2 linked regions of the Homo sapiens genome follow. The protein of the gene in region 1 purifies or fractionates together with the protein of each later gene. This does not show direct contact. Each region holds a gene or a part of one and is shown in the gene's direction. Other genes may lie near its edges.

Evidence for each region. Proteins that work in one complex are often made in the same cells at the same time.
Region 2: the proteins of SPSB1 (region 1) and RASA1 purify together in Homo sapiens (affinity purification with western blotting, with the first as the bait; one study listed by BioGRID). This does not show direct contact.

The regions. Positions count from the first base shown.
Region 1 is NC_000001.11:9,298,643-9,303,973, forward strand, and holds part of SPSB1 (SPRY domain-containing SOCS box protein 1), read left to right. Parts: intron 1-5,331. UniProt on the Homo sapiens protein: Substrate recognition component of a SCF-like ECS (Elongin BC-CUL2/5-SOCS-box protein) E3 ubiquitin-protein ligase complex which mediates the ubiquitination and subsequent proteasomal degradation of target proteins.
Region 2 is NC_000005.10:87,375,414-87,380,149, forward strand, and holds part of RASA1 (ras GTPase-activating protein 1), read left to right. Parts: intron 1-979; coding exon 980-1,152; intron 1,153-1,467; coding exon 1,468-1,627; intron 1,628-2,982; coding exon 2,983-3,125; intron 3,126-4,321; coding exon 4,322-4,437; intron 4,438-4,736. UniProt on the Homo sapiens protein: Inhibitory regulator of the Ras-cyclic AMP pathway. Stimulates the GTPase of normal but not oncogenic Ras p21; this stimulation may be further increased in the presence of NCK1.

The DNA.
Region 1 (5,331 bases):
TGATACTGATTCCAGGAAACCAAAAATATCACTCACTGTGGCCCACTAGTCAGAGAAGGGGCTTATGGAGGTCAGGTGATCAATGGAGTTTTAGCTTAGGTTTGACTCCTGGTGGCTCCCGTGGATCCCTGAACCCATCCTGGGGTTATTTCCTGGTTCCAGATTCAAAGTTGACATACTTAGCACCTGGCAGAATCCACACACTGGTTCCCTGCCTTGTGCGGTGAGGGCTGTTATGGTGGGAAAGGCCAAGTGGAAACCATTAGCGTTGCCTCTGCCTGGGAAAATAGTACATCAAAAGCAACATTGCATCCCTGGGGTGGGGCTGCCGAGATTAGCACCACCATCAAGGACTTGGAGGAGGCGGGGGTGGTGACCCCCACCACATCCCCATTCAACTCTCCGATTTGGCCTGTGCAGAAGACAGATGGACTTTAGAAACTGATAGTGGATTATTGTAAACTTAACCAAGTGGTGACTGCAAAATTCACACATCTCTGGTCCCTGCTACTGCATGCAGCTGTTGATCTGACGAATGCCCTTCTCTTTATACCTGTCCATAAGGCCCAGCAGAAGCAGTTTGCATCCAGCTGGTAAGGCCGGCAATGCCCCTTGGCGGTCTGGGCTGATGGGTATATCAGCTCTCCAGCCCTATGTCACAGTTTAGTTCACAGTCATCTTGATCACCTTTCCCTTCCACAGATATCATACTGGGGCTGGGCACGGTGGCTCACTCCTGTAATCCTAGCACTTCAGGAGGCCGAGGCAGGAGGATCGCTTGAACTTAGGAGTTTGAGACCAGCCTGGGCAACACAGTGAGACGTCATCTCTCTCTCTCTCTCTCTCTTTTTTTGAGATGGATTTTTTGCTCTTGTTGCCTAGGCTGGAGTGCAATGGTGCAATCTCGGCTCACTGCAACCTCCGCCTCCCGGGTTCAAGCAATTCTCCTGCTTCAGCCTCCTGAGTAGCTGGGATTACAGGCATGCGCCACCACACCCAGCTAATTTTTTGTATTTAGTAGAGACAGGGTTTCACTATGTTGGTCAGGCTGGTCTTGAACTCCTGACACCAAGTGATTCACCCGCCTTGGCCTCCCAAAGTTCTGGGATTACAGGCATGAGCCACTGCGCCCGGGCCGACATCATCTCTATAAATTTTTTTTTTTTTTAAATTAGCCAGGCATGATGGTGTGTGCCTGTGGTCCCAGCTACTTGGGTGGCTGAGGTGGGAGGATCGCTTGAGCCTAGGAGGTCAAGACTTGCAGTGAGCAGTGATTGTGTTACTTTACTCCAACCTGGGCAACAGAGTAAGACCCTGTCTCAAAAAAAAAAAAAAAAAAAGGGTCTCATGCTGGTCCATTACATTGATGTCATCATGCTTCATTGGACCTAGTGAGCAAGAAGTCGCAACCACTGTAGCCTTATTGGTAGGACATTTACATGTCAAGCGATGGGAAATAAATTCTACTGAAATTCGGGGACCTTCTCCCTTAGTGAAATTTCTCGGGGTCCAGTAGTGTCAGGCCTGTGAAGGTATCCCCTCTAAGGTGAAGAATAAGTTGTTACAGCTTTCCTCCTGCAACCAAGAAAGAGGCACAATGCCTCGTGGGCCTGTTTGGACTTTGGAGGCAACACATTCCTCATTTGGGTGTGTTACTCCAGCCCATTTGCTGAGTCACCCTAACGCTTCTAGTTTTGAGTGGGGCCCGTAGCAGAAGACTGCAACAGGTCCAGGTTGCTGTGCAACCTGCTTTGCCACTTGGGCCACCAGCAGATCCAGTGGTGGTTGAGGTCAGCGGCAGACAGGGAGGCTGCTTAAAGCCTTTGGCAGGCCCCTGTAGATGAATCGCAGTACAGGCCTTGGGATTTTGGAGCAAGGCCCTGCCATCATCCACAAATAACTTCATTCCTTTTGAGAGACAGCTCTTGGCCTAATACTGGACCCTAGTAGAGACTTAATGTTTGACCATCAGCCACGAAGTTGCCATGTGACCTGAGCTGCCCATCATGAAGTGGGTGTTATCTATGATCTGACCGACCAAACCAGACATTGGGCATGTGTGGCAGAACGCTGCCATCGAGAGGAAGTGGTATATATGGGATCAGGTCTGAGCAGGTCCTGAAGGCACAAGTAAGTGACATGAGGAAGTGGTCCAAAGGCCCATGGTTCTTACTTTGCCCACTGCCTTCTCTCTCCAGCCTGTATCTATGGTCTCCTGGGGAGTTCCCTCTGATCGATTGACAGTGGAAGAGAAGACTTAGTCAGCCTGGTTTGCAGATGGCTACAGATGGCTCTGCACTATATGAAGGCACAACCCGAAAGTGGACAGCTGCAGCACTATAGCCCCTTGCTGGGACACCTCTGAAGGATGGGGGTGAAGGGAAATCCTCCCTGGCAGAGCTTCGGGCAGTGCACCTGGTTGTGCACCTTGCTTCGAAGGAGAGATGGCCAGATGAGTGATTATATACTGATCCATGGGCTGTGCCTGATGATTTGGCTGGATGGTCAGGGATTTGGGGACTTGGAAAGAGTATGATTGGAAGATTGGTGACAAAGAAAGCTGGGGGCCTGGCATAGTGGCTCACACCTGTAATCCCAGCACTTTGGGAGGCCAAGGTGGGAGGATTGCTTGAGCCCAAGGAGTTCGAGACCAGCCTGAGCAACATAGTGAGACTCCCCGCCCCCGCCATCTCTACAAAAATAAAAAATTAGCTGGGCGTGGTAGCTCATGCCTGCAGTCCCAGCTACTTGGGAGGCTGAGGTGGGAGGATCACTTGAGCCTAGGAGGTTGAGGCTGCAGTGAGCTGTGATTGCTCCAGCCTGGGCAACAGAATGAGACCCTGTATCAAAAAACCCAACCAAACAAAAAAGCAATTGGGGGAAGATGTATGTGGATAGACCTGAGTGCGCACAGGACACGGATAGACCTCCCGAGTGCGCACAGGACATGAGGTATGTGGGTAGGATGACCTAGGTGGATTCTCGTCAGCCTCTTTCCCTGGCCACCCCTGTCATCGCCTGGTGGGCTCAGGAACAAAGTGGTCATGGTGGCAGAGATGGAGGTGATGCATGGGCTCAGCAGCATGGACTGCCACTCACCAAAGCCGACCTGGCTATGGCTACCACTGGCTGCTAGTCTGCCAGAAGCGGAGACTAACACTGAGCTCCAGTATGGCCCCATTCCCCGGGATGATCACTGCACCTGGTGGAAGGCACATTGGACCACTTCTGTTTTGGAAGGGGCAGCGTTTTGTCCTTACTGGAGCAGGCACTTATTCTGGATACAGATTCGTCTTCCCTGCACACAGTGCTTCTGCCAAAGTCACCATCCATTGATTGACAGAACACCTTTCCCACTGTCACGCTGTCCGTGTAGCACTGCTTCCAGGGAGCTCACTTCACAACCAAGGAAGTGTGGCACTGGGATCATGTGCAGGGAATTGGCCGGTGAGCACGAGCCCACTGGTTTCGCCTATCATGCTAAGTGGAACTACGGTCTTGTTATTGCCTTTATTTGGAAATTAAGTATGGTTTAAGAAGATGCCAGTGGGTGCCTATGGGTGCCAGTTGGTAAGGGGTGGACCTGTGATGATTGATTTTGGATGTCAACTTGACTAGATTAAGGAATACCCAGGTAGATGGTAAAGCATTGATTATTCTCTATGCTTCAGTACACACTGAGCCTGTCCCTTTTCTGCTGACAGGGAAGCCCAGTGGTTTGACATTGTGTAGAATGATCGGGCTGCCCCAGATGTGTCTGTGAGGGTGTTTTTGGAGGACACTGGCAATTGAGTCACTCAACTGGGTGGGGAGGATCTGCCCTCCATGTGGGCAGGCACCATCCAGTCAGCCGGGGGCCTGGAAGAAGGGTGAATCCTGGCTCTCTGTCCCGGAGCTGGGATGCTCTTCTCCTGCGCTTGGATGTCAGAACTCCAGGTTCTCTGGCCTTTGGACTCTGGGACTCGTACGAGTGGTCTCCGGAGTCTTTGACCTGGGACTGGGAATGACCACGTTCCCCACCATCCTGAAGCAGCTGACTTGAAAGAAGGGCAGTAGAGTCTTTTGAAGTTGCAATTACAATGCCAGCTAGGTGACAATACTTTGTAGGGCTGGGTCAGGGGTCTTCAAAAGGCTCTATGTACTCTGTATCAGCATCCAATATATGGTGCTGGTTTCTCCCGTAGCCAGGATTCACGGGTCCAGGAATCAAGGGGAGGAAATGGGAGTGGCACTGCGCATCATATCCCCTAGGGACCCGCTAGCGAAATTGTTGCTTCCTGTTCCTGTGACTTTATGCTCTGCTGGCCTGGAGGTCTTGGTTCCAGAGAGAGGAATGCTCCTACCAGGAGACACAACAGTGATTCCATTGAACGGGGGGTAAGGCTGCCACCTGGCTTCTTTGGGCTCCCTGTGCCTCTGGGTCAGCAGGCTGAGAGGGGAGTGATGGTGTTGGCTGTGGAGATTGATCTGGACTACCAAGGGGAAATTGATCTGGACTGCTCCACAATGAGGCAAGGAAGAGTGTGTCTGGAGTACAGGATACTCCTTAGGGCATCTGTTAGTATTACCATGCCCTGTGATTAAGTCAATGGGAAATTACAAGGATACAATCCAGGCAGGACTGTGAATGACTCAGACCCTTCAGGAATGAATGTTTGGGTCACTCTGCCACTTAAAGAACCACAGCCAGCTGAGGTGCTTGTTGCAGACGAAAGGAACACAGAACAGGACAGAGGGAGGTAGTTATAATAAATACCAGCTCCAACCACGTGACCAGTTACAGAAACAAGGGCCAGAATTGCTGGGAGTATTTCCTCCCTATTTTGTTCAGAATACGGTTGTATGCATTTACATGTATATTAGGCAAATATCTGTTTTCTTTCCTCTCTTACTCCTTATTCTTAGAACATGTGTTGAGTCTATAGCAGTATTTAAGTATTAATTTTACATCATAGTATTTAAGTTATTGAGTATCAGAGGAGAGAGGAGTGAATAGCACTCAAGGACTGTACCTCCTCTCTGGAGAAGGGATTAATGTGTCTTTGCTATGCAGGATAGTAGTGTCACGATAGGTGGAACTATGACCTTGATACTGTCCTTGGAGATTAAGTATGGTTTAAGGAGATGCCAGTGGGTGCCTCTGGGTGCCAGTTGATAAGGGGCGAACCTGTGATGATTGATTTCAGATGTCAACTTGACTAGACTAAGGAATACCTGGATAGATGGTAAAGCATTGATGATTCTCAATGCTTCAGCACACACTGAGCCCATCCCTTTTCTGCTGACAGGGAAGCCCAGTGGTTTGGCATTTGTGTAGAATGATTGGGCTGC
Region 2 (4,736 bases), on another chromosome or scaffold:
CCATACCTGGCTAAGTTTTGTATTTTTAGTAGAGACGGGGTTTCAGCATGTTGGCCAGGCTGGTTTCAAACTCCTGACCTCAGGTGATCTGCCGGCCTCGGCCTCCCAAAATGCTGGGATTACATTACCATATAAGTAAAAAAGTATTCTATTTAAAAATTTCCCTTAAACTTGAATGTCATTTATTCTATTTAAAAATTTCCCTTAAACTTGAATATGTCACTTATTCACTTCTGGTAGTCAAAGGCTCCCAGTTCCTGTCCTCAGCAGCACAGCTCCTTCCATCCTGCTGCTAAAACAGTTGACAGTGAGATTTACCAGTTCACATCAGGGTGAATTAGGTTAATACCTTCTTAAAACTCAGGCTTAGGGAAGGAAGTGATATGTATTAACAGATCAAAGCCTGAATATTTCTCTATAAAATGTTTATTCTGTAGTTTTTTGTAGTAATTTTAGTTTTCCATTACTTTTACGATAAAATCCAAACCCCATAGTAATGACACAGAACGAAGGCCATACCTTATATTTGAAGTGCTCTTTTTTCTTTTTTCACTACTTTTCTTCTTAGCTACACCTCTAGATCTCGTCCGCTCAAGGGTTACCTGTTTAAAGTGGAGTTTTCACCTCCACAGGCTGAATTAGATATTATTTCTCTGTACTCGAATAGCATTCACCACTGTTAACAGCACTTACCAGTGCTGAAACATAATTGATTTCTTGCCTTCTTGACTAAACTGACCTCTATGCAACTCAAAGAACACATCTCAATCATCTCTGTACTCTCTACCTATCAGAGTTTAGTGCACCGTAGACACTCAGTAAATAAACAACTAAATATTGAATTTGTGATGTTACTGAAAACTCCTTTAATGAAAAGCATTTAACACCATAGGGAAGACTGAACACCAGGAAAATTTACTTGCATGACTAATTATCGTGTTCTCTTTTTAAACAATAATTGCTTGTTTTTCTTCCCAAGTATTTATGCGCTGCCAGTTGAGCCGATTACAGAAAGGGCATGCCACAGATGAATGGTTTCTGCTCAGCTCCCATATACCATTAAAAGGTATTGAACCAGGGTCCCTGCGTGTTCGAGCACGATACTCTATGGAAAAAATCATGCCAGAAGAAGAGTACAGTGAATTTAAAGAGGTATTAAATTATTTATCAGTCTTGTTTTTGTTGGAATTAACAGAAACATTTAACATTTAATAAAAGATCCATTAAGGTAAACATAGTAATTCATAGCTTAGTAGCACAATGATGCCAGAGATTTTAAACCTTGTTTTATACTGTAATTTTGGTAGAAATAAGTAGACTACGAATTCATTCTATTTTAAATAAATTTATTCAATGGGACATCATTTTAAATATAAGAACTTGTGAAAGAACATATTTCTTGTTAGTCTCATGGAGCATGCTTATAATGCTACGTACTTTAAACAATCTTTTAAAATGTCATTTTAGCTTATACTGCAAAAGGAACTTCATGTAGTCTATGCTTTATCACATGTATGTGGACAAGACCGAACACTACTGGCCAGCATCCTACTGAGGATTTTTCTTCACGAAAAGCTTGAATCGTTGTTGTTATGCACACTAAATGACAGAGAAATAAGCATGGAAGGTATGGTATGGCCATGTTAGTGTGATACAAGAAACTGGGTTTAGATTTTATATCAAGGATATATGGACTCTATCTCTGAATATACTAAATTGTTAAATTATATTGCAAAATAAGTTATTCTGTTTTCCCTCCTTAAAAATTGCAGTTGGATGTCAGTTCTGATTATGTTGGTTACTATGGGAAGCTGATATTTCTAATGTAGGTTTTGGCAGATAAGTACTAGAAGCCACAAGAAGGTGGTATCTGTGTCTACATCAATGGCTTGACTGTTTGGCATATTTATCTGTATTCTCTTGTTTTTTATTTTCTTTTGAGATGGCATCTCAGTCGCCCAGGCTGCAGTGCAGTGGCGCAGTCTCGGCTCACTGCAACCTCTACCTCTCAGGTTCAAGCGATTCTCCTGCCTCAGCCTCCTAAGTAGCTGGGACTACAGGCATATGCCACCACACCCAGCTAATTTTTTATTTTATTTTTTTAGTAGAGACGGGTTTTCACCATGTTGGCCAGGCTGGTCTTGAACTCCTGACTTCAGGTGATCCGCCTGCCTCAAGCCTCCCAAAGTGCCGGGGTTACAGGTCTTGTTTAATTTTTACTTCTTCATTACACAGAAGCTGGGTGTCAGCTGCATTTTATTTCTAACTTTTATAGATAGGTAGTTCCCAAGCTGCTGGACACAGTGCTTTTAATGGCTTACAAAATAATCCACCCTCCCCCTGGCCCACACACACCACCAAGCACTTTGATTCATTAACAGTTCTTGCTTCTAGGTTCCCCAAATAAATAGTAAAGTTTAGAACTATTTTCCTCCTCATCACAAAATATAGATTTGTCAAGGAATAGATAAAATGGTGGTCCTTATTTTACACTTGAGTTTATCTTTTCTGACAGCATTTGTATTTCATTAAAATTTTACTGAAACTCAGTAGACATATTTTAAGCTAATAAATTAATCTATACTGGGATTTTGTGTTATATCCTTAATTGTAAATAAACCCTAAAATTTCAAAGCATGGGGTCAATGGGCAGCAAAGCTGATTTATGGTCCTAATTTTATCATTAGCTGTCTAATTGATCTTAAGTCATATAACAATTCTGAGTCTTCATTTTTCCATATGAACATGGCAGTGTTAATCCCTTCTGTTCATGATCTAATGAGGTAATACATATGAAAGTCTTACAGAGTTAAGTCTGTAGAAGTATAGGATGTCATTGTAATTAGTACTTTCAACGCTGCACGCAAAAAGCACATTTAAGTGGCTATTCCTGTTGAGGTAAAATGAATTCACTTAATTTCCAATTTGGTCACATTAGGTCAGTCCTTTACAAATAATCTTCTAATGTAAATATTTGTGTAGATGAAGCCACTACCCTATTTCGAGCCACAACACTTGCAAGCACCTTGATGGAGCAGTATATGAAAGCCACTGCTACACAGTTTGTTCATCATGCTTTGAAAGACTCTATTTTAAAGATAATGGAAAGCAAGCAGTCTTGTGAGGTAAGAATTTAATGTTTTAATAAGTATTTTTGCAAAGAACATATTTTAATAGGTAATAATTTGTAGCCAATTACATTTTAAGGAAAATATATTAAATTTCTAAAATTATTCCTCATAGCAGTTACACCTGTCTGTAATACATTTATAAAAATGTTCTGCAAAATGGACTTCTTAAAAAAGATGTACTTTATTTTGGGATTAAAAACCATCAAGTTGCACCAGAAATTCATGAAAATACTTTGTCATTTCCTCTACTGTACTAATAATCTATATACTACTTACAGAAAGCGTGCATAAGATAAATTGAAGGTTTTGTTAGTGACTCATTATATAACCTATGTAGCACTTCATTACATCTTGGTTTGTTCTTGAAGGTTTTTTTGCGAGGGGAGAATTATGAGATAACCTCAACTAAAACAAAAAAATCTTTTTAGGATTATTAAAGTTTCAGTATAAATTCATAATACACTATTAAGACAGTAAGTGGAATCTCACACACATATTCTCTCATTTTAATGGTAAAGCAACTACAAAGAAATAATATATATTAGATCTGATATAAAAATCAGTTTAAGGAATTGTTTTTGACAATGGACACTGGGACCTAGCAAATGTTAATCCTGCACGAAGGTGTCGATTCATACTAATAACTTGAAGGGAAGAAATTAGTGATTTAATGTTGGAAATGTGGGGTAATGCCATAGTTGGCCTAACATAAGGATGACACAGAAGTGCAGCAGGTAGGTAGGGAGTCTCTGGACTTTAGAGATAGGCTACGGAATTCCGACTTCCATAGATAAATGTACTCTGCTGACACTAGATCAGAAGGGTTACAGGAAAAGTTCTGAGAAAGGTTTGTGATTCTGCCTAAGGCATTTGATATTTTTATTAGCCATTAAATAAGCCTCATTCAGAAAAGCTTTTAATCAGCTTTTTTTCCCCTCAAATAAATAGAATTGACTAAGCACTGTTTGCTTTTCAGTTGGCTAATTGGGAATAAATGGTAACAGACCTACCAGGAGGAGTTCCATAGAGAAAACTACTTAAAAACTCCCATTATACAAAGAAAAAAGATCAATACACACAGAGATACCGAAAAATAGACAACCTCGAAAACTATAACTACTTGTTTTCCTCTATTCATTTGCATTTGTCATTGCCAACATGCATTTATATTGATTTATTCCTTCTTTTAGTTAAGTCCATCAAAGTTAGAAAAAAATGAAGATGTGAACACTAATTTAACACACCTATTGAACATACTTTCAGAGCTTGTGGAGAAAATATTCATGGCTTCAGAAATACTTCCACCGTAAGTGGTGAAATTTTCATTTGACAAGAAATTGTGTATCTATGTCTTCAGAAATTTCTATTTCTAAAACGTGAAAGCTTTTCTGTTGTCCTAATATTATTATACTCTGAAAAAGTCATGGTTAATCTTTATGAGATGAATTGTATTTAAAGAAAATAGCTGTCTTAATAAAACCACCCATTATTTTCGTACAAGCCAATATGTCTGGTTTGTACTGTAGTAGCTTGGGGAGTGAATAGAGGTTTATAGTTTCAGATTTGAGATTGTAAAAGATATCTTGTCTATCCATTTAGTCTATA